Homo sapiens: one gene and its partners. The protein of the gene in region 1 purifies or fractionates together with the protein of each later gene. This does not show direct contact. Each region holds a gene or a part of one and is shown in the gene's direction. Other genes may lie near its edges. The genes, in order: VNN2, CTSV, SLC30A9 and DPY19L4.

The links.
Region 2: the proteins of VNN2 (region 1) and CTSV purify together in Homo sapiens (affinity purification with mass spectrometry; 2 studies listed by BioGRID and IntAct, with this or other methods). This does not show direct contact.
Region 3: the proteins of VNN2 (region 1) and SLC30A9 purify together in Homo sapiens (affinity purification with mass spectrometry; 2 studies listed by BioGRID and IntAct, with this or other methods). This does not show direct contact.
Region 4: the proteins of VNN2 (region 1) and DPY19L4 purify together in Homo sapiens (affinity purification with mass spectrometry; 2 studies listed by BioGRID and IntAct, with this or other methods). This does not show direct contact.

What each region holds. Positions count from the first base shown.
Region 1 is NC_000006.12:132,754,900-132,762,318, reverse strand, and holds the start of VNN2 (pantetheine hydrolase VNN2 isoform 1 precursor), read left to right. Parts: upstream 1-4,414; 5' UTR 4,415-4,435; coding exon 4,436-4,648; intron 4,649-4,772; coding exon 4,773-4,903; intron 4,904-6,283; coding exon 6,284-6,476; intron 6,477-7,419. UniProt on the Homo sapiens protein: Amidohydrolase that hydrolyzes specifically one of the carboamide linkages in D-pantetheine thus recycling pantothenic acid (vitamin B5) and releasing cysteamine. Involved in the thymus homing of bone marrow cells.
Region 2 is NC_000009.12:97,029,171-97,036,165, reverse strand, and holds the end of CTSV (cathepsin L2 preproprotein), read left to right. Parts: intron 1-472; coding exon 473-638; intron 639-1,322; coding exon 1,323-1,440; intron 1,441-3,117; coding exon 3,118-3,217; 3' UTR 3,218-6,489; downstream 6,490-6,995. UniProt on the Homo sapiens protein: Cysteine protease. May have an important role in corneal physiology.
Region 3 is NC_000004.12:42,084,525-42,090,985, forward strand, and holds the end of SLC30A9 (proton-coupled zinc antiporter SLC30A9, mitochondrial), read left to right. Parts: intron 1-1,557; coding exon 1,558-1,602; 3' UTR 1,603-5,937; downstream 5,938-6,461. UniProt on the Homo sapiens protein: Mitochondrial proton-coupled zinc ion antiporter mediating the export of zinc from the mitochondria and involved in zinc homeostasis, zinc mobilization as well as mitochondrial morphology and health.
Region 4 is NC_000008.11:94,722,878-94,729,906, forward strand, and holds part of DPY19L4 (probable C-mannosyltransferase DPY19L4), read left to right. Parts: intron 1-3,453; coding exon 3,454-3,564; intron 3,565-7,029. UniProt on the Homo sapiens protein: Probable C-mannosyltransferase that mediates C-mannosylation of tryptophan residues on target proteins.

The sequences.
Region 1 (7,419 bases):
CCCATTCTTTGTTTCTCAGTTCACTTGTCATTTTGCATTCAGGAGAAGGGACAGAACAGGAAGTCCAGTAGCCAGTGTCAGAGCCTGGAGCAGCTCCTCTCCTTCCTGGGGTTGAGTTCCTTGGTTTTCTTGTTTCACCTTTGCTACCCCACTGCAGTTTTTCTACCACGCTGGGTTTAGCACGAATCAGGAGTTGATGCCCAGGTACCCTGTCAACCCCATTTCATTCCAGCAGTTCTTCAGCACGGTCATCCAAATAGACTAGAATTTGAATTGAACAACAGTAGTTCTGTGGGCCTAACAATGAAATAATATTAAGCAGTCAGGATATTATATTACTAAATAGTCACTCACTTTTGTTAATTATTGTCATCTGCGTTGTAGTCTTACAGAGGACTTTCACATATCTTTAGGAGATAGAGCAGGTATGATTACCTAAACTTTTAGATGAGAAATAGAGGTCCAAAGAAGTGGTGCAAAGCAGAAACTACACCCCTATGCTTACTCTTGAGAAAGTGGGAAAAAAATGAGGTTTTTAAAATTAAAGACCTAAAACCTAGTCCAATTGAACATTATTCTAACAGATGATCAGATTCACAATTAGAAACAAATATTTGAGCTATTACTGTTTTTCGTTTATTTGCTTGTTTTTTATTTTTGAGACAGAGTCTCACTCTGTCACGCAGGCTGGAGTGCAATGGTGCTATCTCGGCTCACTGCAACCTCCTCCTCCTGGGTTCAAGCAATTCTCCCGCCTCAGCCTCCTGAGTAGCTGGGATTACAGGCGTCTGCCACCATGCCCAGCTAGTTTTTGTATTTTTAGTAGAGACTGGCTTTCACTATGTCGGCCAGGCTGGGCTCGAACTCCTGACCTCAAATAATTCGCCCGCCTCGGCCTCCCAAAGTGCAGGGATTACAACCATGAGTCACTGCGCCCACCCCAATACTGTTTTTTTTTTTTTTATGGTGACTCTTTGACCAAATAATTTTTAATTGATTTTAACTTTTTACCCCTTTAGCTAAGTTCATTAATCCCAAAATGGCAAATTAGGAAGTAGGCTCTTTTAGCAACGAATTACAATTAATCAATGTTCCCTGTGGCAAAATAACCTTACTTTATTTTATAATTCAGTTAAACTAAAAATTTTAATCTTTACCTGATCAATCATCTTTATGAAAAGTCAACTATTGAAACTGTATGTCCTGAATTTGGTTTTTTACTTCTGAAGATTTAAAACAATATCAATGACCTCTACAGCAAATATTTTCTTCACATCTCAGGGATTTTCCTATATTTAAATTGCTCCTTCATTTACTAACTTCTAATTCTTTTTTGCAATTACCTTTGTTACTCAAATTCTCAGTTTCAATGAGACAATTTTTAGATGCTTCAAATAAAAAAACAAAGGAGGGAATTTAGTCATCTTGATTTTATATCAGAAGTGATTTTCCCTTTCCCTGTTAGCCAAACAAAAAATCCAAAACTCTGATCAACATCATTTCTATCTTTTACAGCCAAGGACAGAGAAAAACATCCAGATTTGGGAACACAATAACAGATATGATTGTCCCCACTTCTACTGCCAAAATTATAAAACTGTTAACTCCTCCTCATCAGCTTACCTGACTACTTAAAAGCAAAAGAGTTAATTAAGTATTACTAATTGGTGATACTAGATCAATGAAGGTAGGTCATGGCCCAAATTGTACTTATGGAGATGGAAGAGCTTAATTGTTTTTATTAGGCATCAACTGCATCAGAAATTTCATTAGCACTTAGCAAATTTGCCTATGGTCTTCTTAAGGTGATCATTTTGAATTGGGTTCTTTAAAAGACATGAATGACTGGCTGCAGTGACTGACACCTATAATCTCAGCACTTTCAGAAGCCAAGGTGGGTGGATTGCTTGAGCTCGGGAGTTTGAAACAAGCCTGGGCAACATGGTGAAACTTCCTCTCTACAAAAAATAACAAAAATTAGCCTGACATGTTGGTGCGTACCTGGTGTTCCAGCTACTAGCGAGGCTGAGGTGGAAGGATCACTTGAGCCTGGGAGGTGGAGGCTGAAGTGAGCCATGATCATACCACTGCACTCCAGCCTGAGCAATAGAGCAAGACTCTGTCTCAAAACAAAAAAACAAAAAACAAAAAAACCCCAAAAGACACGAGTGTTCAGACACTCAGTTGCAGACATTAAAAGAGAGCACAGACACATGTGCTGTTTTAGGTATAAAGGAAAGACTCTGGAATCAGGAATGAGAAGCGAACATCCTGCTCTGTCGCTCTAGCTCTCTATGCCTCAGATTCCTATCCTGTAATAAGTGGGCATTTGGGTTACATGATTTCTAAACTCTAACAGCACTCATAATCTATTATATACCAATCACCTATGCTAATTTACTAATTATACACTAGATAGTATGGTTATATACTAACAGTCTATTATACAATCTGCTAAAAATTCATAAAAATATCTATCCCTTTACATTTTCCACAAAAGGGCTTGACCATTTTTCCTGAATTATTTTTAGTTTTCTGCTCTATAGAGATAAGAAAAGTTATTCCTTTAATAGAAACTTCTATTCAAAGCAGAAAATATGAGCAGATCTTATTTATAGCCCCTAGGCCCCATTCTTAACAAAACATTTATCTCAGTAAGAAGGAAAGCACAGAATAAACTTTGTTTAATCGTACCTACTCTTCTATGCTGTCTAAAAGCATTTCCGTGACTTTTACCAAAGGGCTGGATAAAAATAAAACAAATCCTTTATTTGGCAGGATTGGGCCTGGGGAAGGGAGAATATGAATGTCCTAAGAAGGCATCTGAGATCACATCCTGTATTTGTTGTTATTATTGTTTTTTTTTTTTTTTTTTTTTTTGAGACGGAGTTTCGCTCTGTCGCCCAGCCTGGAGCGCAATGGTGTGATCTCAGCTCACTGCAGCCTCTGCCTCCTGGGTTCCAGCGATTCTCCTGCCTCAGCCTCCCGAGTAGCTGGGATTACAGGCGCCCACCACCACGACCAGCTACTTTTTGTGTTTTTGGTAGAGATGGGGGGTTCCACTATGTTGGCCAGGCTGGTCTTGAACTCCTGACCTCAGGTGATCTGCCTGCCTCGGCCTCCCAAAGTGCTAGGATTACAGGCATGAGCCACTGCACCTGGCCTGTTAGCATTGTTTTTAAACTCATTGTTGTTATTTGCTGCTAACAAAAATGTAAGTTACATCTTCTCCTTATTACAACACAGATGATCTTTATCACCAATCCTGGACTCTTCCCCTTCCCTGGCATCTTCCTCCAAAGCAGGGGGTGGGGAGGGAGGAAAAAGAAGGAGGAGAAGGAGTAGGAGGAGAAGGAGAAGTAGGGGGAGGATGGGGAGGGAAGGGTGAAAGAGAGAAAGAAGGAAAGAAGCGGAGTATCCTGAGGCCTGGGGCCCCTGAGCTGAGATTCCTCCTCTGGCCTAGGTGCCTCGGGGTATTGTTGCTGTAGGCACTAACTATACAGCAGTGAACAAACCAGACACAAAATCCTGCTTTTCTGGAGCACATGTTTTCAGTCCTTAATAGCAATAAGTAAGTCAGAGTGTAGATTTGGGTAAATTTTGTTATCAATATTGTCCTGTGTTACATTTTCTTAGTAGTAAGTATTTAATATTTTCCCCCCCGTCTAAAAATAAACACAATGTAAGTGACTCAACAGAACCAAAAAAATTGTTGTCAATTTTTAAATTTAATAAATGAGATATTTGTTGGGATGTGATTTTTTTACACGAGAGTTAGTTATGAGTTTCTATTAACAAAAGCTGGAATTGTTCTATATTTGAATTCGGGTGTCTTTTGGAAATTCAATATTAAATCTTAGTACTAATAGTACATGCTGTTCAATCCCTGTAATACTTTCTGATTGTCTTAAATGGACTGCAACTTTTCTTTCTTTAAAAGTGGTCAGATATATTGCGTTCTTAAGATTATAAAGTAGGCCAAGTGCAGTGGCTCACGCCTGTAATCCCAGCACTTTGAGAGGCTGAGGTGGATGGATCACAAGATCAGGAGTTTGAGACCAGCCTGGCCAATATTGTGAAACCCCATCTCTACTAAAAATACAAAAATTAGCTGGACGTGGTGGCGCGCACCTGTAGTCCTAGCTGTTTCAGAGACTGAAGAAGGACAATCGCTTGAACCTGGGAGGTGGAAGTTGTAGTGAGCTGAGCTTGCGCCACTGCATTCCAGCCTGGGTGACAGAGCAAACTCCGCCTCAAAAAAAAAAAAAAAAAAAAAAAAGAAGAAGAAGAAGAAGAAGAAGAAGAAGAAGAAGAAGAAAAATGATGATAAAGTAAAAGGCCAGTAACTGGCAGCCACATGTTATGCAAACATTCTCCCCTCTGTAAATACTACATGAATGTTATTTTTGCTTTCAGAAATCACTAAACCTTGGCCATGGTCACTTCCTCTTTTCCAATCTCTGTGGCAGTTTTTGCCCTAATAACCCTGCAGGTTGGTACTCAGGACAGTTTTATAGCTGCAGTGTATGAACATGCTGTCATTTTGCCAAATAAAACAGAAACACCAGTTTCTCAGGAGGATGCCTTGAATCTCATGAACGAGAATATAGACATTCTGGAGACAGCGATCAAGCAGGCAGCTGAGCAGGTATTCTCTTATTTCTGTTAATCATAATGTACACGAGGGGCATGGGAGCTGGTGGAAGACGAGAGAGCTGAATTGTCTGTGTTGTACATGGAAAAATCATTTTTATTTTGCTTGTTTTGAACAGGGTGCTCGAATCATTGTGACTCCAGAAGATGCACTTTATGGATGGAAATTTACCAGGGAAACTGTTTTCCCTTATCTGGAGGATATCCCAGACCCTCAGGTGAACTGGATTCCGTGTCAAGACCCCCACAGGTATTTTAACTATCTTAGTCTTTTGTGCAAAAGTAACTCTCTAAAATGCGCACGTTCACCAAAGCAAAATGATTGCTCTTGAATTACCATATATGTGGTATATGTTATGGTTATATTTATCTCAACATTTGTCAGATTTTAAAAAATTGTACTTAGATACTATTTAACAATCTTTTGTGATTGAAAATCTTTATTAAATTTTGAGAAAATGTGTAAATAGGGTATTCCTGCAAGAAAAACTAAGGGAAGAGATCTCATAGATACAAGTAGTAACTTAATTTCTGAAGTAGACAGTGGATTGTGTTAGGAATACATTCCAAAGCCTCTGCTGAAGGGACACCCTTTCAATGTTATAGAGTCTCTCCATTCCAGAGTTGCTTCTTAGGCAGAAAGACTTCACCATGTATTTTCAAGTGAATCATAAGACCTTATGCTTTGAAACTGCATTTTCCTAGGCTCACAAATCTAATTTTCCTGGGAAAAGGTTATCTAGAAACCTTCTAATATATATTAAAAATCTGGGTCCTACTGTCATCCTGGAGGTGTCAACGTGGCAGTTGCATGGACAAGTCTGGCATGAAAAGACAAAATTATATCTGGAGATAGAAAATCAAATGTCAGCATATAGATGGTGTTAAACACCATGATGAGTTCACCTGTGGAGTGAGTTAGAGAAGAGTTTAGGTATAAGGCTTGAGCACTAGGAAATTCTAGTGTTTAGACTCGGAAGAAAACGAGGAATCAGCAGAAGAGTCGAAGAAGAGCAACCAATAAATAGGAAAATGAGAGGGTGGGTCCAATAGAGAAGTGAGGTGTTTCCAGAAGGAGGTGTAATTAACTGTGCCAACTGCTGTTGAAAAGTTAAGATGAGATCAGGTAAAATGTGGGGGTCACTGCTGGCATTAGTAAGAGTTTGGGTGATAGAGATACAAGTTGGAGTGCTCTGAAAGGGAATGGGAGAGGAGGAACTGGCAACAGCAAGAGGGACTGATCTTTTGAGGAGTTTTGCTTTAAGAGAGAGATGAGGATTAAAGCAATATTTGGAAGGGCATGTTTGGAAAGGTCAAAAGAGGTTTTAATTTTATTTTTTAAAGATGGGAGGTACTAGAGGATATTTCATTGCTGATGGGATGTTTCAGTAGAGAGGAGACCCTTGATGAGGCAGGAGACCGAATAATGAATTTCTGGAGCAATAGATACCGTGTGGGAAGCATTCATCAAGTGTATAATCATCTGTGGCTTTTAAAGTATGATATTTTTAGGCATAGTTTTTGTATTAACTTAAGTTCCACTTAAGTGGTTACAGTTGCTATCGTTTCCATATAAAGTGACTAAAATATTTTTTTAAAATTGAAATTTCTTAATTATAATTTGGTTTAGATTTGGTCACACACCAGTACAAGCAAGACTCAGCTGCCTGGCCAAGGACAACTCTATCTATGTCTTGGCAAATTTGGGGGACAAAAAGCCATGTAATTCCCGTGACTCCACATGTCCTCCTAATGGCTACTTTCAATACAATACCAATGTGGTGTATAATACAGAAGGAAAACTCGTGGCACGTTACCATAAGGTAAGAGAGAGTGACGGACGTGTAAAATGGAGCGTGTTGTGAGTGGTCAATGCTGGGTTTAGGAGTTTGAATTTCATTCCCTATATGATACAATATTACTAGAGGGTTTTTTTGTTTTGTTTTGTTTTTTGTTTTTTGAAAGTGGGCAATAAAGAAAATGACACTTTTGGCTGGGCGTGGAGGCTTATGCCTGTAAGCCCAGCACTTTGGGAGGCTGAGGCAGGTGGATCACTTGAGGCCAGGAATTTGAGACCAGTCTGGCCAACATTGTGAAACCCCGTCTCTACTAAAAAATACAAAAATTAGCGGGGCGTGATGGCACATGCCTGTAGTCCCAGCTATGTGGGAGCTGAAGCAGGAGACTTGCTTGAACCCAGGAGGTGGAGGCTGCAGTGAGCCGAGATTGTGTCACTGCACTCCAGCCTGGGTGACAGAGGGAGACTCTCAAAAAAAAAAAAAGAAAAAAAAGAAAAAGAAAAAAGAAAATGACACGTTGTAAAAAACTACTCAGAAAAACATGTAGGCAGAGAACTGTTAAAAAAAAAAAAAAGTAGCATGATGGTCCAGGATTGAGATAAACTTTTTGCACATATAAAACAAATAATTTTAACATAAAAAAAGATACTAAGGTGACTATAATCTGGGCACTGTTTCAATAATTTTATATTTTTTTAGAGACAGGGTCTCACTGTTGCCCAGGCTGGAGTGCAGTGGAGCCATCATGGCTCACTGTTAACCTCAAACTCCTGGGCTCTAGTGATCCTCCTGCCTCAGCCTCCCAAGTAGCTGAGACTGTAGGCATGTGCCACCATGCTAATTTTTAAATATTTTTTTGGAAACAGAGTCTCACTACATTGCCCAGGCTGTCTTTGAACTCTTCACCTCAAGCAGTCCTCCCACCTTGGCCTCCCAAAATGCTGAGATTAGAGGCATGAGCCACTGA
Region 2 (6,995 bases), on another chromosome or scaffold:
CCGGGAGGCGGAGCTTGCAGTGAGCCAAGATCGCACCACTACACTCCAGCCTGGGCCGCAGAGCGAGACTCCATCTCAAAAAAAAAAAAAAATTATTAGCCTTTGCACAGTTCTCTGGTGAGATGGTCAACAGCTAATGGTTACCATATAAGTACCATTAGATGGTTAACACACAGCTGTTCTTGCTTTTACATAACATGGAGAATAAGCAAACCATTCTACATATAATAGAACTTTATCCATTGTGAAAAATTTTTTATGGACAGATTGACCTAGGGGTTCTCATTGAAGAAATGTCAACTAATTTTTCATTTTCAAATCAACAAATAGCATTTTATTTCATGGGACGATTTATAAGGGTGTTGATTTGGAAATCCTAGGTTGCAAATTGCTGAGTGTTTCGGTTCTAGAACTAATGTTCCCCAGGAGGTAGATGGTAGTGATCAAGTCTCTCCCCCTTTAACTTTAAAAGGATGAAATCTGTAAGTACAGACCTGAGAATTCTGTTGCTAATGACACTGGCTTCACAGTGGTCGCACCTGGAAAGGAGAAGGCCCTGATGAAAGCAGTCGCAACTGTGGGGCCCATCTCCGTTGCTATGGATGCAGGCCATTCGTCCTTCCAGTTCTACAAATCAGGTAAGTGTCATTTTATTATAGAAATTTAGGCAGAATTGGGAAGCATCACTGTGATTGATTCTTGGATATGACATCCTGCTTTGCAGGAATGTAGTATTTTGAGAGTGAGCATTTAACATAGTGATGTTTGCATTTGACATGAGAAAATACTTAGTTATGTTAAACTTCTCATAAATATTTTTAAATGGCTATGTAATTGTATAGAGACAACCTAATTTTCCAAACTATTTTCCAGTTGTTGGGCCTTTTTTTCTCAAAGTTTTTTACTACTGTAATTAGGACTGTAAAGAATCCCCTTCAAGTTTTTGTTTGTTTATTTTGGTGCTATTTTAGACTGACATCCTAGGAACAGAAAGGGATTATGCGAGTTGGTATTTGGGCTCAGAGATATCTAAATCACCTTAGCTGTAAACAATAGGTTTTATCTTTTGGATTTTCATTTTTTTTGGTAGAAAATATCTTGAACTTAGTTGAAGTTAGTTGATTTCTAGTGAGTTGAGGTTGACTTTTTTCCTTTATCAGCCATTACTGTTTTCCGGCCAATATTGTTTGGGTCCTTATTTGGCATTTGTTTATGACATTTTACTGAATTTAGAGATGCCTCCCTTATGGAGGGTGGTAGGGTGGGTTACTGTCACATGTCGCTTGGAGCTTCTCACCCCAGCATTAATTTTACTCTCCCAGGCATTTATTTTGAACCAGACTGCAGCAGCAAAAACCTGGATCATGGTGTTCTGGTGGTTGGCTACGGCTTTGAAGGAGCAAATTCGAATAACAGCAAGTATTGGCTCGTCAAAAACAGGTATAAAACTCAAAATTGAAAAGGGAATTTTTGTTCCAAATCAGTATTTGGATACAAGTTCACAAAAGCTCAATTTCAAAATTCCGAAAGTCTTTCTTCTACTTAGAGTGAACACAGAAATATTAATGTTTGATTATAAGATTCCGTACCAAGCTTTTTGGAGTTATTGCTATGTATTTGTAATATTTTATTACTAAGTTTTGAAAATTTTTAAATTCTGAAACACATTAGTCCTCAAGGGTTTCAGACAAAGGACTGTGGACCTGTAGGTTTGAGAGCTGATTGCTTTTTTCTGTCTAATTTTTCAACAAGGAATAGTAAGCAGAAACATCTGCCTCTGCTGGTTCTTTGTTAAGTCTGAGAGATCATCCGGGAGTCCAGTGGTCTGTGTGCATCCTTCTATTGTCATTGGATGCCCTGTCATCGAATTTCACTCCCCAGCTCTCAGGCTTTGAAGGTTGTCAGAATCTATTTTCTCACAATTAGCATTCTTTAATTGAGATGTGACATAAGGTAGTATGTGGGGACAGACTGCTACAGTGGAATTCCAGTTCTGCCTCAGTATCTTAAATAGTTAAGGACCCACAAGAATCAATATATTCATTCATTCATTTGTTTATTTATTTTTTGAGACAGAGTGTCGCTCTGTCACCCAGGCTGGAGTGCAGTGGCACGATCTCAGCTCACTGCAACCTCTGCCTCCTGAGTTCAAGTGATTCTCCTGCCTCAGCCTCCCAAGTAGCTGGGACTACAGGGATGTGCTACCATACCCAGCTAATTTTTTTTGTATTTTTTAGTAGAGACGGGGTTTCACCATGTATGCCAGGCTGCTGTCGAACTGACCTCATGTGATCCGCCTGCCTTGGCCTCCCAAAGCACTGGTATTACAGACATGAGCCACCGTGCCCAGCCAGTTTTATTTTATTCTGAGATGGAGTCTTGCTCTGTCACTCAGGCAAGAGTGCAGTGGTGCAATCTCGGCTCACTGCAGCCTCCACCTCTCGGGTTCAAGTGATTCTCCTGCCTCAGCCTCCCAAGTAGCTGGGACTATAGGCATGCGCCACCACGCCTGGCCAATTTTTATGGGGGTTTTTTTGTTTGTTTTTTTCTTTTGAGATGGAGTTTTGCTCTTCTTGCCCAGGCTGAAGTGCAGTGGTGCAATCTTGGCTCACTGGAACCTCTGCCTCCTGGGTTCAAATGATGATTCTCCTGCCTCAGCCTCCCAAGTAGCTGGGATTACATGCCCGGTTAATTTTTTTTTTTTTTTTTTTTAATTTAGTAGAGGCAGGGTTTCACCATGTTGGTCAAGCTGGTCTCAAACTCCTGAAACCTCAGGTGATCCACCCGCCTCAGCCTCCCAAAGTGCTGGGATTACAGGCATGCACCGCACCTGGCCAATTTTTGTATTTTTAATAGAGACGAGGTTTCACCAGATTGGCCAAGCTGGTCTCAAACTCCTGACCTCAAGTGATCTGCCCACCTCGGCCTCCCAAAGTGCTGGGATTGCAGGCGTGAGCCACTGTGCCCAGCCTCAGGACATTTATAAATGGATATTAACAGCATTTAGAATAGTGCCTGACACATGGGAAGCACTGTTTAAGTATTAGCTATTATTATTAATGGAGCCAATTTTCCCTTGATTCCTTGTATAAAATGGAAAACCTGCTCCTCTTTCAGCTGGGGTCCAGAATGGGGCTCGAATGGCTATGTAAAAATAGCCAAAGACAAGAACAACCACTGTGGAATCGCCACAGCAGCCAGCTACCCCAATGTGTGAGCTGATGGATGGTGAGGAGGAAGGACTTAAGGACAGCATGTCTGGGGAAATTTTATCTTGAAACTGACCAAACGCTTATTGTGTAAGATAAACCAGTTGAATCATTGAGGATCCAAGTTGAGATTTTAATTCTGTGACATTTTTACAAGGGTAAAATGTTACCACTACTTTAATTATTGTTATACACAGCTTTATGATATCAAAGACTCATTGCTTAATTCTAAGACTTTTGAATTTTCATTTTTTAAAAAGATGTACAAAACAGTTTGAAATAAATTTTAATTCGTATATAAAGGTGGGCCTTTTTTTAATGCATTGGCTTTTTGTGTAGTCAGGAAATATAATTAAGCTCTGAAATAATAACTTCATGTGCCAATGGTATGTTAGGAGAAAGATGCTAGCAGAAAGCTGGCTTCCTGGCTCTTGAGTAGTTATAAAAATACAGACTTTATATCAGCTGCCCAGTTACTGTGTGTTACCCAACTCCTGAATCTACCAAAATTTGATAAACAATTTGGAAGGACAAACCTACATTTTTTTTTTTTATGAGACGGAGTCTCTCTCACTCTGTCACCAAGGCTGGAGTGCAGTAGTGTGATCTCAGCTCACTGCAACCTCTGCCTCCCGGGTTTAAGCAATTCTCTGCCTCAGCCTCCCGAGTAGCTGGGATTACAGGCGCGTGCCACCACGCCTAGTGTATTTTTAGTAGAGAGAGGGTTTCACCATCTTGGCCAGGCTGGTCTTGAACTCTCGACCTCGTGATCCACCTGCCTCAGCCTCCCAAAGTGTTGGGATTACAGATGTGAGCCACTGCGCCCAGCCCCTAAATTGTTTTAGTAAAGAAGAAAGCAGTTGACTTTTTAGAAAAGGAAATGTCTTCTTCCTTTGACACATAACCTCAAGATGGTTAGGTTACGTGATAAAAAGTGAAGCTGCTTGTTACTGGAGCCTCTCTGAATTGCTGGTGACCACTTTGCAGTCTGAGGAAGACGCAGGTGCAAGTAAGTTACCAAGGGTATTTTGTTTTCATTCCAAGTCTCTGATGACATATTCCACCTAGCTCTTCTAGAAAAGCTTATTTGTTAACTAGTGTTAGCAAAAATAAATGGTGTGGTTAACAAATCTCAGGCATTTGACAGTAGCTGGAGAAATTTGTTCAAGGTCCACAAGAGATGAGGCTGGGCTACAAAAAGAGGCCTCTGGCCGAAGATGGATAAGAGATCACAAGTGAAAGGTCAGAAGTCACTAGGCCAGACTCTGGCTACCTAATCCCTGAATTAAAAATAAACTCAAAATGGGGGGAAAAAGGCTAAGCATATAGTTACACAGGTAGTAAATACAAATAAAACGATATTTTTGCATATTTAAAATACTGGAAGAAAGTACACCAAACTTGTGGGTGAATTATGGGTGGTTATTTAACTCGTTTAGTGAAAAGCATGTATTTTTATGAGCAGGAGAAAATAGTAAAGATATACCCACATTCTGCAGGCTAAAGGAGAGCCCTGTGTGTGTTTTAAAAGCCCATGTTTCCAGTCAAATAAAAAATTACCGGGGATGAGCTGGTGAAATTTAATCGAAAGGTGATCCATTGTGAATGCAATGGGAGGGAAGGGGCATGTGGGACTGTGTATCCCAAAAACCCTTTGATAGCCTATGTCCACAGCCATCTCTGGAAAATCCAGTCTACCATATTCAGTCTTGAGTTTTCTCTGAGAAAGGATTCCTTCGTCTTTGCAGCAGCAGGCTAAGTTGGTACTCTCCACAGATTCTTGGAACAACAACCCAGGCTCTAAGGAAACATCTAGGCACTAAATTGAATGAAAGAGTGATGGCTTTTTATTCAAATAAAAAAATTTCAAATCTGTCAAAACAGCACCCCTCGGAAAACTAAAATAGAGATATTTCAAGATTTTATAATTTTCAAAGACCTTTGAAATATTTTAAACTTGTGAAAAGTTACAAACCTGATGTGTTGTCTAAAAGCGTTTTTCAAACAAGCCAGTAGACTTGAAAAATCTAGTCTGAAGCACAGACTTAACCAATATTTGCTGGGGATATGCCCCCAAATCTGGCCATAAACAAAATCTCTGCAGTACTGTGACAGGTTCATGATGGCCATGACGCCATGCTGAAGGTTTACCGGAATGAGAGCAAGGAACACCTGGACCACCCAGGGCGGGAAAACGGCTTAAAGGCGTTCCTAAACTACAAACAATAGCATGAGCGATCTGTGCCTTAAGGACATGTTCCTGCTGCAGATAACTAGCCAGACCCCATGCCTTTGTTTCGTTTGGGAAGGAATACTTTTAGTTAATCTATAATCTATAGAAACAATGTTTATCACTGGCTTGCTGTCAATAAACATGGGTAAATCTCTGTTCGGGGCTCTCAGCTCTGAAAGCTGTGAGTCCCCTGATTTCCCACTCTGCATGCTATATTTCTGGGTGTGTGTCTTTAATTTCTCTAGCGCCTCTGGGTTAGGGTCTCCATGACCAAGCTGGTCTCGGCAAATATTTCCTATACTCGAACATCTAAATTGTTTGTTTTCTTACTTGAATTGCAAAGGAAGTAAGGAAGGGTGAGATAGAAATCACTGAGCATATTAAGAGGGAGGAGTTTGCTGATGTGGGAGTGTAGTTATGACACTTGGGCATCATACTAGAGGCTATGGACTTAGCAATAAGGAAACATCCACTCAGCCCTATGTGTGGTTCATGTGTATGTTTTGCCTATGAAAGTTGAAACTGTTTTCTAAATGTTATTTCCTTTTGTAACTGATAAAATTTCTAAAAAGCAAAGAAGAAACTTTTCTGTATTAAAAATAACAAACATTAGTAAATGTATATATACAGTCATGTGTTGCTTAATGATGGGGATACATTCTGAGAAATGTGTCTTGGGTGATTTCATCGTGACGTGAACATCATAGAGTACACTGACACAAACCTAGATGGTATAGCCTATTACACACCTAGGCTATATGGTACAGCCTGTTGCTCCTAAGCTACGCACCTGTGCAACACATCACTGTGCTGAGTACTGTACACAGTTGTAACACAGTGGTAAGTATTCGTGTATCTGAACAGAAAAGTACAGTAAAAATATAGGATCATAATTTTATGGGACCACTATCATATATGCAGTCACTGACCAAAACATCACACAGCACATGACTTGTGTGTATGGATATCTCAATTGTAAACAATTTCACAAATGTTCATTATCTCTTTTTAAGTAAGTTAATAAGTAAAACTATTACTAAGCTGCAACGTGTTCTTGTTCTGCAGTGTATTTATTCATTTGGATACAGTTGATTCTTGAACAATGCAGAGGTTAGGGGCACCAACCCTTGTGCAGCCAAATATTTGCATATAACTTTAATTCCTCCAGAACTTTTCTACTAATAGCCTACTGTTGACTGGAAGCCTTGCTGATAACATAAACAGCCAATTAACACATATTTTGTGTATGTATTGTAAAATACTGTATGCTTACAGTAAGCTAGAGGAAAAAATGTCATTAAGAAAATCATGGCCAGGCACGGTGGCTCACACTTGTAATCCCAGTGCTTTGAGAGGCCGAGGCAGGCAGATCACGAGGTCATGAGATCAAGACCATCCTGCCTAACATGGTGAAACCCCATCTCTAATAAAAATACAAAAACAAAATTAGCCGGGCGTTGTGGCCGACACCTGTATTCGCAGCTACTCAGGAGACTGAGGCGGGAGAATGGCGTGAACCCGGGAGGCGGAGCTTGCGGTGAGCCAAGATCGCG
Region 3 (6,461 bases), on another chromosome or scaffold:
GCAGTGGCACAATCCCGGCTCACTGCAACCTCTGCCTCCCGGGTTCAAGCGATTCTCCTGCCTCAGCCTCCCGAGTAGCTAGGATTACAGGCATGCGCCACTATGCCCAGCTAATTTTTGTACTTTTTAATAGAGATGGGGTTTCATCATGTTGGCCAGGATGGTCTTGATCTCTTGACCTTGTGATCCGCCCGCCTCGGCCTCCCAGAGTGCTGGGATTACAGGCGTGAGCCACCGCGCCCGGCCAGGTGCCCTTCCTTTGTGCACTCACAGGAAAAAGAAACCCAAAATCTTTACTTTGCTCTGTGGTAGCCGAGTGTTGTAATTGCCTACTTAATTTACCTATATCACCTCACTACCAAACGTAAGTCCACTGAAGGCAAATACTGTTTGTTCCCAGCTCATTGTCATATACACTTCAATGCCTGGCACAGAGTAGGCATGTAATAGTAGACAGTATTGGTTGTTATTGAATTGAAGTTCCTTAAGCTAGCATATAAGATTTTTAACAACCTGATTTCTGCCTGTCTTTCCAGCCTCATTACCAACCCTACCCTTTTTGCAGCTTCTGTGCTAGCTATACCATAGTGCCAGTGCACACTTTGCAGGCTGTCTGACTTTGCTGATGTTGTGTTTTCTGTCTAGACACTCTTCATTATCTACCTGGAAGGCTCATCATATGCAGACCTACCTTAGATATTATATCCTCAGTGAAATTTTCTAGATCTCATGAGCAAAATGGCTGTCTCATTTTTGCTCCCAGTGTTATTATTTAGTACAGTGTAATAGGAGCTTGGGATCTGGAATCAGGCCTGGAGTCAGGCCTGGAATCAATCCTGGCTCCATCACTTACTAGCAGTGTGACTTCAGACAGGTTAGTTAATTTCTTCGTACTTCAGTTTTCCCTGATGTATGTATAAGATGGAAATAGTAATTAGGTTATGAGGCTTTTAAAACACACATACATGTGCTCATGTAACACAGTACTTGATACATGAGTGAGTAAGCAATAAATGTTAACTTTTTATTATTAGCTCTAATACTTTAACTTGTAGATGATTACTGCTATGCTGGTCTCCCTAGCTAAACTGAGTCACTCAGGGTCAGGAACAGAGTCTTATTTAATAATCATAGCTCTGTTTTCTAGCACAGGGCCCGGCCCAAGAATATATGGATTGTTGCTAAAGTATATAAAATGAGTGGTTGTCAATTTACTCTTTTTGATTATTATTGTTTTGCAGTGATTTTGTTTTCACCACACAAAAATGTGTATTTCCAGTGCTTCGCAATGCTTGGCATGTACTAGATCCTTAATGCACTTTTGTATTAACAAACACATGAACAAACTTAGGAATGTGATACTACTTATTGTACTGTTTATAGTATGTCTATTTACCTATTGATCTTACTTTTTTTCTTATGCAACTATTTCTCTCATTAGTATGCTATAGTGAAATAGTTTGCAAATGTTTTCATTGGCTCTAATGACCAAAAGGAATAAAAAGAAACAAGATTTTATTTTGCTACAAATAATGTGGTGGTGATTTTTCTTTCCAGAAACGAAATCCTGAAGTTCGACATGTAGATTTGGAGATACTGTGAGTTTGATGGAATGAATCACCTGGGTGGGGACCTTGGAAACAAGTTTGTCCGTCCACTCTACAAAGTTTCCTCCTCTCCTACACTGAAAGACTCAGTGCCATGCAGAAGCCTTTTTTTTAAGATGAAGGAAATATTTTATGTAAAGAGCAACTCAGCAGGACACAGAACTAAAACTACTACTTACATCTAACAGACACACTACAAGTTGAATCAATTTGAAAATCATGTTTTTATGCTTCCATAGGGAACATTTTGGTTATTTAAATTGTTCATAATGTCCCATATTTCACCTGTTCAGTGTATACTGTACTTTGCAATCATCTTTCCTTTTTTCACATTGGTAAAAATAAGTGGCATCCATAGGATCATGATTTTTAATTTGTTGCCTCTGAAGATTTCACTCCATCAAGATCTGCCAATCTTCAATATTCTGGCTAAATCTTGGTATGTGGTTTTTAAACAGTCACTCCGTTTCAAAGTCTGTCTTTCCTTATAGAATGTGGAAATTATTTCTCCATACCTTGTGATTTTGACCTGAGTGCTAAGAGAATCACTCTCCTTACCTAGTTATCTACAAATGTTCATTCCAGAAATGTTTAGTTACTGAATTGAATGAAGACATCTCAGTACACTCTTTTAGGTCATAGTAGTTGCCATTTTGTAAAATTTCTTTTTTCTTCTTTGCTTTTTTCCCCTTATTTGGTTTAATTTTTCTAATGTTAGGAGATATAGTCCTAGATATTTCCATGGGCCAGTGTGATGACTTTTTTTTAAATGAGGTTCAGTACCATAATGTTTATTTACTGGAAGATAATGCATTTATAAGCATTTTAAAATTCTGTAAAGTGGGTTAGAAATATTTATAATTTTACAGGCAGGACAGCATTTGACTTTTATTTAAAAGGCGGCACTACTTATGTAAATCTGAGCTGTGGGATATTTCTTGCTTTAAGAGAGAGACAGAATCTCTCACTGAAACTCATGGTCATGATTTTGTATAATATAGTTCATACTGTGTCTGTGAGTTTCTTCAGTTACAAATGGGCATTTAGTATAGTTATATTGACTATAACATGTAAGTAAATAGCTTTCTACTGACCCTAAGTTATCAAGGTGGAAAAAAAACATGCAATTCAGTAATTGAAAATGTGGTGAAAAGCTGCAGCTGTCATCATCAAAACAACTCATAACATACTTTAAAATGTTCAGGTAGCAGTGAGCATTGTTCATATGAGAATGGCGGCTGGGTGATCTCTTTGCTGAATTAATGAGTTCTTAACATGTGGACCCAACTGCCTGTGTGAGATCTGTGTCTTAAAACTTACTGGAATGGAAATCTATGAATTATTGCAAATTGTAATGCTGGAAACAAAAAATAAATCCTTGGTTAAAGGGTTTGTAATGGTGATTTTTGACCCAGAAATCTCATTTACTGGAAAATTGTGAGACTTTACGTTGGTGTATTTTTCTTTTTTTTTTTTTTACTATTACAGAGTATTTTGCATGCTGTACATTTTAAGTGAAATAACATTCCAGTTTTATTTTTAAGATAGAAAATTGTTATATATATATATAATTTGATACTCTATTCTTACAGTTTCAAATTCCTTATCCCTTCTTTACAAAAAAAACTTTTTTTTTACCTGTTATGATTTATTCTATACTTTTTTCTTCTTCCTTCCCCTTTCCCACTTGCCATTTATTACTTCATGTCATTGCCATATGAGAAAGTACCAAATTATATCCAGTTTCCTCCTAGTGATATTACTCTGAAAAATTTCACAAAGCCAGACAAGAATAATTACTCATTTTTTTTCCCAAGACGACCCTCAAAGTTAATGTGCAGCAGGTATTCCAAATGGTAATTTTTTTTTTTTAGGATTCCCTAATAAAAAAAAAAAAAATTCTGATATTTCTTTTTAAATCTGATTTTGGTTGAGGTCATACCATTCTTAAATAATAATTGAAGGTTTATGTTGCCATCTTTTCTAATTCTGTTTTGCACTGATAAACTTACATAAAGTTTGTTTATGTAAAATAAGACATAAAGGAGTACAACATATCAAGGAATTTGAGTATTTATGTGGAATCAGGAAATTTTTCTAGAGTCACTGAATTTTCAAATCAGAGAATTTGGGCTGGATATGGTGGCTTATGCCTGTAATCCCAGCACTTTGGGAGGCCGAGGCAGGAGGATTGCTTGAGCTCAGGAGGTCAAGACCAGCCTGGGCAACACAGCGAGACCTCATCTCTACTAAAAAAAGTTAGCCGGGTGTGGTGGTGCTCACCTGTGTTAGTCCATTCTCACACTGCTATAAAGAAATACCTGAGACTGAGTAATCAAAAAAAGAGCTTTAATTGGCTCATGGTTCTGCAGACTGAACAGGAAACATAGCAGCTTCTGCTTCTGGGGAGGCCTCGGGAAACTTCATTCATGGCAGAATACGAAGGGGAAGCAGTCATAGCCAGAGGAAGAGCAAGAGGCGGGGATTGGGGGTAGGTGCCACACTCTTGTAAACAACCAGATCTCATGAGAACTCACTATACAGTACCAAGAGGGGAAGGTGCTAAAGTATTCATGAGAACTCCACCCCCGTGATCCAGTCATCTCCCACCAGGCCCTACCTCCAACATGGGATTACAATTCGACATGAGATTTGGTGGGGACAAAGATCCAAAGCATATCAGCATCTGTAGTCACAGCTACTTGGGAGGCCGAGGTGGGAGGATCACTTGAGCCCCAGAGGTCGAGGCTGCAATGAGCTATGATCATGCCACTCCAGCCTGAATGACAGAGTGAGATCCTGTCTCAAAAAGAGAATTTGGGTCTCTTTCTCCAAAAATAAGGCTATATTTAGTTTTTCAGGTTTCTTGTTATTTTACCAAATTAATGTTTCTTACTTTGTATCTACTTTGGCATATAGCATTTGAGTATTAAAGCATATAAATCATTTTTAAGGAAAATATTCTCTGCAGGAGAATAATTACAAAAATAATACTGGACAGAGGAGGGGCAGTCAAGGGTCCATGATTGATTCCTTCTTGCCCAAAACTAAAATCTAGGATTTATCAAAGGTGAGGTATACAGTGGTCCCTGACTTATAATGGTTGCACTTAAGAATTTTTATGATGGGTTTATTGGCACATAACCCAATAATAAGTAAAAAGCATCTGTACCTACTTTTAGCTTTGGCTGAGAATGGATCTCTAATTCACTGTAAGTAGCAGTCCCCAAACTATATAAGGTGGCACAGTTTTCATCATGGCAGTGGGAGGATGAGGGGTGGAGTGTTTTTGTTTTTTTTGTTTTTTTTTGAGACAGAGTTTCGTTCTTGTTGCCCAGGCTGGAGTGCACTGGCACAATTGCAGCTCACCGCAACCTTCACCTCCCGATTCAAGTGATTCTCCTGCCTCCTGAGTAGCTGGGATTACAGGCATGCGCCACCACACCCGGCTAATTTTGTATTTCTGGTTTAGACAAGGTTTCTCCATGTTGGTCAGGCTGGTCTTGAACTGCCGACCTCAGGTGATCCGCCCTCCTCGGCTTCCCAAAGTGCTGGGATTACAGGTGTGAGCCACTGCTCCGGTGATCTGTTTTTAAGTGGAGTATCCTGGGGGCCTATAGTATCCAACTCCAAAGAGGTAAGTTCCTGAACATACACTAAAGAACCTGTGAGATAAGATCAGACGGAAAAATTTTCAAATTTTTTCAAAAGCAAAGGTAATCCCTGCATACATCCTCCTACACACACACACATAGTGCAAAGTGAATAACAAAATGTCATAAGGCTTGAGTTTTTGGTATATGGCTTTCAGTGTTACCTTATCTCATAATTTAGGTAATGATTTTTGCTAAAATGATAACCATCTAAAGAGTGCCTAAGTTTTAAGTCTCGTAACTTTTTGAGGAAGAATGCTGGGAACTACAGAAAACTGCATAGGCATTTAGAATTTGTATTATCTTCTTAGACTGCATTTGTCAAGCTTTGGCAGCATTTCTTTTAAATGTGATGAACCCCAATTTGCCAAACTGTCAGAAGTCAGTGAAGCAAAGAATCGAAGGTAAAATGTTGATTCAAAGATTGTCTCCCCTAAATCCTTCATTTCTTTCTCTGAAATGGAACTTTGGAAGCCATTTATATAGATTAGTCTGACAGCCTTTATATTTGCATGTAAGTTTACTTGCATCCTTAGACTTGGCTTTATGCAAAAAGAAAATTTTTATTCGTTATATTGTATTTCATCTGTCTGATTTCCCTGGCACATTAAGATGGTCCTGGTCCCTCAGGATACTTTTTCCCTTAATAAATGTCATATGTAAATAAAGGCAACTCATTTATTAGTTTGGGATTTTTTTTCCCTTGAGAAATAAATGTTTGTTGAACATAAATTCTTCTTTACCTCATGTGCTAAGAACTAAACTATATAATCTGATATATTTTTTATGCCTATGTTTTTGAACAGAATTTGTTACTCATTCAGTGTGCCTGTTAGTTTTTTTTTTTTTTTTTTTTTGAGACGGAGTCTCGATCTGTCGCCCAGGCTGGAGATCCGCTCACTGCAAGCTCCGCCTCCCAGGTTCACGCCATTCTCCTGCCTCAGCCTCCCGAGTAGCTGGGACTACAGGCTCCCGCCACCACGCCCAGCTAATTTTTTGTATTTTTAGTAGAGACGGGGTTTCACCATGTTAGCCAGGATGGTCTCGATCTCCTGACCTCGTGATCCACCCGCCTCTGCCTCCCAAAGTGTTGGGATTACAGGCGTGAGCCACCGTGCCCGGCCGCCTGTTAGTTTTTAGGATTTCTTTTTGGTCGTACAAAACCTAACTATAATAACTCTTAATCATTTTATAATCGGTT
Region 4 (7,029 bases), on another chromosome or scaffold:
TCTGGTCTTTAAAAAAATGTCTTCCTTGATGCAGTAGAGGGCCAGGGTGTTTATATTTATGCTTTCTGAACGCAATGTTAGAGCAAAGAAAGAAGTGACAACCTTGAGTAGAGCAGTATTAACATTTCACTTGGAAACTGCTATGTCTAGCCTGGATAGACATTTGAAAGTCTGTTTGTAGCCCTACTGTTTCATATGAAGATGACTGGACTGAAGTCTGAAATAGCAGGTTACTTTTGTGGATGTGTAATCATCTTCATTTAGTTTGACTTTTTCTTTACAATGCTAAAAATATCAGATAGTGAAAAGGAGTGGCCGGGCGTGGTGGCTCACGCCTGTAATCCCAGCACTTTGGGAGGCCGAGGCGGGCAAATCACGAGGTCAGGAGTTTGAGGCCAGCCTGGCCAACATGATGAAACCCCTGTCTCTACTAAAAATACAAAAAATTAGCTGGGCGTAGTGGCGGATGCCTGTAATCCCAGCTACTCGGGAGGCTGAGGTAGGAGAATTGCTTGAACCCGGGAGGCGGAGGTTGTAGTGAGCCGGGATGGCACCACTGCACTGCAGCCTGGGCAAAAAGAGTGAAACTCCGTCTCAAAAAAAAAAAAAAGATAGTGAAAAGGAAACCTGAATTACATCGCAGAGCTTTCCTGTCAGAACTGATAATCTCATTTGTCCATTGCTTTGGCCTTTGCTTTTTTTCCACCTAGAGATGTGTGACTTTGTTTTTCCATTATGAAATTATATGAAAAGTTAGCTTTAGGGATAAGGTTGAAGAGATGAGCTAAAATGAATACTGTATTTATCGAGTCGTACTTTTGGCTCTTACAGTTTAATGCCACTAAAATTGATATGTCTTAAAATCAGTGCACACATTCAGTATGACAGTGTGGTTTTTTTTCCCCTTGAAAAACCTATTAAGTAGTATCTTCAAACGTATGGCATCTTAGAATCAGGAAAATATAATATTATAGATCTTTTATAGATTACATATTTGTATGGTCCTTGATCATTGCTAATATAAGTTCTTGAGAGATGATTGTTGAGATTTGTATACTTCATAAATTACTTGAAAATCTATGCAAAATGTTTGTGTAAGTTGTACTTTTATAAACAAAAATCATTTATGGACACAAAGAGAACATGTTTAATTAAAGTCCTGTAAAGCGATTTATTTGATAAAGAACATTTTTAAAAAGGAAAATGATAATTTTTTGTAAGAACACATTTTATGTGACTATTCCCCTCCCAATTTATCACTAAGTGTGTATTTTTAGACTCTAATGGAAAAGACCCACCTACCTAGCCCATTGGTCACATATAGTATATTTGTTGACTATCTCAATAGATTTGTTAATTTGACTTCTGAAATTATCCAATTAAATGTTTTAAAGTCCAATGCTATTACGTGATTAATCATGCAGGTGTACCTGCAAAGGAAAGTTCTTGTAGTTATATCTTCCCCTTGTATTCTTTTAAAATAAAATTAAAAACAATAATTTGCTTTTGAAGACTTATATTTGATTTTGCATAAATATGCGTTCTTGTTGACTGCTTCTAACTTTTACTTTAACCTAGAGCAGGGGAATATTAAAGAGGCATAATGAGGAAGGAATATAGTAATATTTACTAATTGACCTAGATTTATATACAGAAATACTCAAAGTCTGGGGTATGTTTTTCTAATAATGTCATTTTTTGTTTTTTTTGTTTTGTTTCGTTTTGTTTTTGAGACGGAGTCTCCCTCTGTCACCAGGCTAGAGTGCAGTAGCGCGATCTCGGGTCACTGCAGCTCCACCTACTGGGTTCAAGTGATTCTCCTGCCTCAGCCTCCTGAGTAGCTGGGATTACAGGAGTGCACCACCACACCCGGCTGATTTTTCTATTTTTAGTAGAGACAGGGTTTCACCATATTGTCCAGGCTGTTCTCGATCTCCTGACTTCAGGTGATCCACCCACCTTGGCCTCCCAAAGTGCTGGGATTACAGGTGTGAGCCACCATACCCGGCCTAATAATGTCATTTTAAAATATTTTCATTGATTTCACTACTTAACATGACTACAGAATAAATGGTAGTATAGAAATGGGTAAACATTAGATTCATCAGTCTGAATCCACTAAATGTACAGCTTTTTTTTTATCACTATGCCAGTGTTTAAAGATATTTTAGTGAACATACAAGTTTGCTATGAAGCTATTTTAAGATACATTTATTTTATTCATTTTCCACAGTAAAGCTAGAGAACATCCATCTGATCAGCAGCAACTGATTCATTTCTCCTTCTTTGACTTTTATGTTTATTTTCACATTTCATAGCCTGAAGTTATTACTAAGAGAAAGGAAGAAAACTGTCTTCCACTTCCATGAGAAAGATAAATTATTGTATCACTTTATAACTTGGCAGGAACACTCTGTACTTACAGTATCATAATCTATCCCACAAGATGATTAATTCTAGGGAGGAAAAGTATAAATTGTATATAGTACATTCCTGTTCATCTTGGAGTTTAGTTTACTAGTTTGGAGGTAACTTCTGCATCACATTTTCTGAAACTGGAGCTAGAAGAGGAAGATAGTCTAATCCTGGGAAATTATTTTGAGACCTTCTCATATATAGGTATCTTTGTAGGTTCAGCCTATTTTCTAATACCTAAATCTATAAGATTGTACAATGCTAATGATAACACAGCACTGAAATTCTGCAGAACTTTTAGGGTTATTTAAAAACAGAAGTGTAGTTTATGATGAATGTATTATGTTTTGATTTTTTTTTTGAGATAGAGTCTCGCTCTGTCGCCCAGGCTGGAGTGCAGTGGCACGATCTCGGCTCACTGCAAGCTCCGCCTTCTGGGTTCACGCCATTCTCCTGCCTCAGCCCCCCAAGTAGCTGGGACTACAGGCGCCTGCCACCATGCCAGGCTAATTTTTTGGTATTTTTTTTTTAGTAGAGACAGGGTTTCACCATGTTAGGATGGTCTCGATCTCCTGACCTCGTGATCCGCCCACCTCGGCCTCCCAAAGTGCTGGGATTACAGGCGTGAGCCACAGCGCCCGGCTATGTTTTGATTTTTAAAGAACAGTTAAACCATAAATTATGCATTTGATACTTTAAGGTAACTAGAATTATGAGGTGAATAACACCTTGACCCCCAGTTTGGAAAAGAGCTTACTTATTTTGGGATGTTTTGAAAATTCCATCATCTTGGGAGAAGAGCACATTGGTTTACTATTAGGATTGTCAAAACACAGATTGGGAAGTGGAACTTAAATTGTCTTTTTTTAGACAAAAGATAATTTTGCAGGGGTGCCAAAATAATTATGAAAAGGTTATCTTTGATACTAATAGGTCTTAGTGGTACTTTTGCTTTAGAATAATAAAGGTTAATTGGCTCAGGATACAGATTAAAACAATTTTATACACACATTGCAATAATGTCTTAAATATTTTAAGGACCACCTGTAGAGCTGCGCCAAAGAAAAAAGCCAAAGTCTTCAGAAAATAAGGAATCTGCCAAAGAAGAGAAAATCAGTGACATTCCAATTCCTGAAAGAGCTCCAAAACGTAAGTTAGATAGACTTGGAATTTGTGCTACTACAAAAATAGTTTACACTAGAAAGTATATTTTATGTCAATATTTTAAATATACATATTTTGAGATTAAGTATATGCTCAGCTTTCACTAGGTTTTGGACAACCCCCAAATCTCACTGGCTTATGACAAACATTTATTTCTAATTAATATTACATGTTGTGGCTGCAGTTTGGCTGTCGTAGTTTTATGTGTTGCGAAGGAATAGTCCGTATTTGGGAAAGATTTTTCTTGTGACGTAGGAAAAGAGGAGGCAGAATCATGCAATGTCTCTTAAAGTTTCTGCTGACCTGGCACACTATCACTTGTACGCACCTTTTATTGGCCAAAGCAAGTCATATAATCAATTCAGACGATGGGATGTGAAGTATACTTTGATTACAGGGAAGTGTTCCAGGTCACATGGTAGTGGGCAGGGATATATAAGATTTTTAAAGGGAAGGAGAAAATAGTTGTGAATAATAATATAGTTTACCACACCCTGTCCTTGTGATTTATTTCTCTCCCTCAGACAAAATACGCTTACTTTTTCCCACACCCGAAAACTCTCTCTTATCTAGTCACAGCCTTAATCTTGAACCCAAAGGCTTATCTACATCAGGGCCAGCTATGACTCATTCTAATCCAGAGATCTATGAACTAAAAAGACAGGTTATCTGTTTTATGTCGGGGGTTCCCCAGAACACCCCCATGTTTGGTTATTAGCTGGAAGGACTCACAAGTTTCAGAATGAAGTTGTATTTACAGCTATGATTGATTGATTGATTGATTGATTGATTTTTGAGACAGAGTCTCGCTCTGTCACCCAGGCTGGAGTGCAGTGGCACGATCTCAGCTCACTGCAACCTCCACCTTCTGGGTTCAAGCGATTGTCCTGCCTCAGCCTCCTCAGTAGCTGGAACTACAGGCACATGCCACCACGCCTGGCTAATTTTTGTATTTTTGGTAGAGACGGGGTTTCACCATGTTGGCCAGTCTGGTCTTGAACTCCTGACCTCAAGTGTTCCACCTGCCACAACCTCTCAAAGTGCTGAGATTATAGGCATAAGCCACCGTGCCCAGCCTACAGCTATGATTTATTATAGCAAATAATATAAAACAAAATCAGCAAAGGGAAAAGGCCTATTTTGGTGAAATCTGCAAGAAACCAGGCATAGGCTTCCAAATTTCCACTCCAACAGAGTCACACAGGATGGGCCTGATTCCTTCAGCATCAAATTGTGACATTTGTAAAGTTTTATCTACCAGGGAAGCTCATTAGTGACTCAGTGCTCAGGGTTTTTACTGGGGGCTGGTCATGTAGGTATCCTCTGCCTACCATGTCCCAAAATTCTTGACTCCCAGAAAGAAAGCATAAACTACATTGTTTGTACAAAGAGGATAGGCACTGTTATCAGTTAGAGAATGGTGGGAACTCTCCTGAAATTGAAGTTCCTAGATGCCAGCCAAGAGAGCCTACCTTGCAAGCAGGGCTTTCTTTTTTTCCTTTTTCTTTTTCTTTTTTTTTCTTGAGACAGAGTCTCACCCTGTCACCCAGGCAGGAGTGCCATGGTGCGGTCTCTGCTTACTGCAACCTCCATCTTCTGGGTTCAAGCAATTCTTGTGCCTCAGCCTCCCGAGTAGCTGGGATTATAGGCATGTGCCACCACACTTGGTTAATTTTTGTATTTTTAGTAGAAACGGGGTTTCACCATGTTGGCCAGGCTGGTCAACTCCTGACCTCAGGTGATCCGCCTGCAAGCAGGCCTTTCTCAGGAAAGCGGTCTCAGGCCTGCTGTGTTAACTCTTTTCTGCACATCCCCCCACTCTCAGTATACACTGTTGGACAGGGACAGGATATCCCCTTACTCTGGGATAAGGAATCTGTTGTGTTTATGCCCCAGTTGTGTTCCTGGGGAATTGTTTTCCAGTTCATTGTTTTCCATGGTCCTTGATTTTACACTCTAGAGATCTTTTCTCTTCCATTTTCCTCTATAACCATATCTAAAGATGGGTTTGGAGAATGTGTCATCCTTAAGGGCTAAACAGCTTTCTCAGATTGCTTGCTCTGCACTAAAAGTTGAGGCCTATATATAAATTTGCTCAAGATAAAAGCTGTGGGTAATCTACAAATCTAGGTGAGGGGCTGGCCGCAAGAAAACTATATTTGGGAGCTGGAAAAATGAAGATCTATATTATATCATGACAAAACATTTGATAATACTGTTTCCTGTGAACAGTTGACAATACTATTTTTTTCTATCATTTTAGGTAATGAGATTGCAAAACAGAATGTTACTAGAGTGCCTTTGTTATTAACATCTGCATTTGACTACAGGAAAGAGATCTGGGTTTAGAATAGAATTGGACTATTTGTAAGTGGGAATAAAGAAGAAAATAGAGAATCCCAAAATTCTGGGACTTGTAATGTTGAAGTGAGAACAGTTTATTAACCAGGCATGGTGGCTCGCGCCAGTAATCCCAGCACTTTGGGAAGCTGAGGCAGAGGATTGCTTGAGGTTAGGAGTTCAGGACCGTCCTGGACAACATAGTGAGACCCTGTCTTTATTTAAAGAAAAAAAAAAAAGAAAAAGCTGTTTGTCTTTTTCAACCAATGAAAGTTAAAATCAAGAAATGGGAGGCCAGGCACGGTGGCTTAAGCCTGTAATCCCAGCACTTTGGGAGGACGAGGCAGGTGGATCATGAGGTCAGGAGATCGAGACCATCCTGGCTAACATGGTGAAATCCCGTCTCTACTAAAAAAATACAAAAAATTAGCTGGGCATGGTGGCATGCAACTGTAGTCCCAGCTACTTGGGAGGCTGAGACAGGAGAATCGCTTGAACCTGGGAAGCGGAGGTCACAATGAGCCGAGATTGTGCCACTGCACTCCAGCCTGGGTGACAGAGTGAGACTCCGTCTTAAAACACACACACACACAAATTTAAACTTAGGCAATATAGTGAGACCTCATCTCTACAAAAAATCAGAAAAAAAAAAATCAGCCAAGTGTGGTGGTGTGCCCCTGTAGTCCCAGCTACTTGGGAGGCTGAGACACAAGAATTGCTTGAATTCAGGAGGTGGAGATTGCAGTGAGCCGAGAATGTGCCACTGCACTCCAGCCTGGGCAACAGAGGAGATTCCATCTCAAAAAAAAAAAAAAAAAAAAAAAATTTAAGCCTAGGCAATACAGTGAGACCTCATCTCCACAAAAAAATTAAAAAAAAAAAATTAGCTGAGAATGTGGTGGTTCATGCCTGTAGTCCCAGCTACTTGGGAGGCTGAGGTAGGAGGATTGCTTAAGCCTGAGAAGTGGTGTTTGCAGTGAGCCAGGATCACGCCACTGCACTCCAGCCTGGACGATGCAGCAAGACTCTGTCTCAAAAAACAAACAAACAAAAAAGTTAAAAAATTTGAAAAATACAACGTAAGAAAGAAAATTAAATAGTCTAGAAATA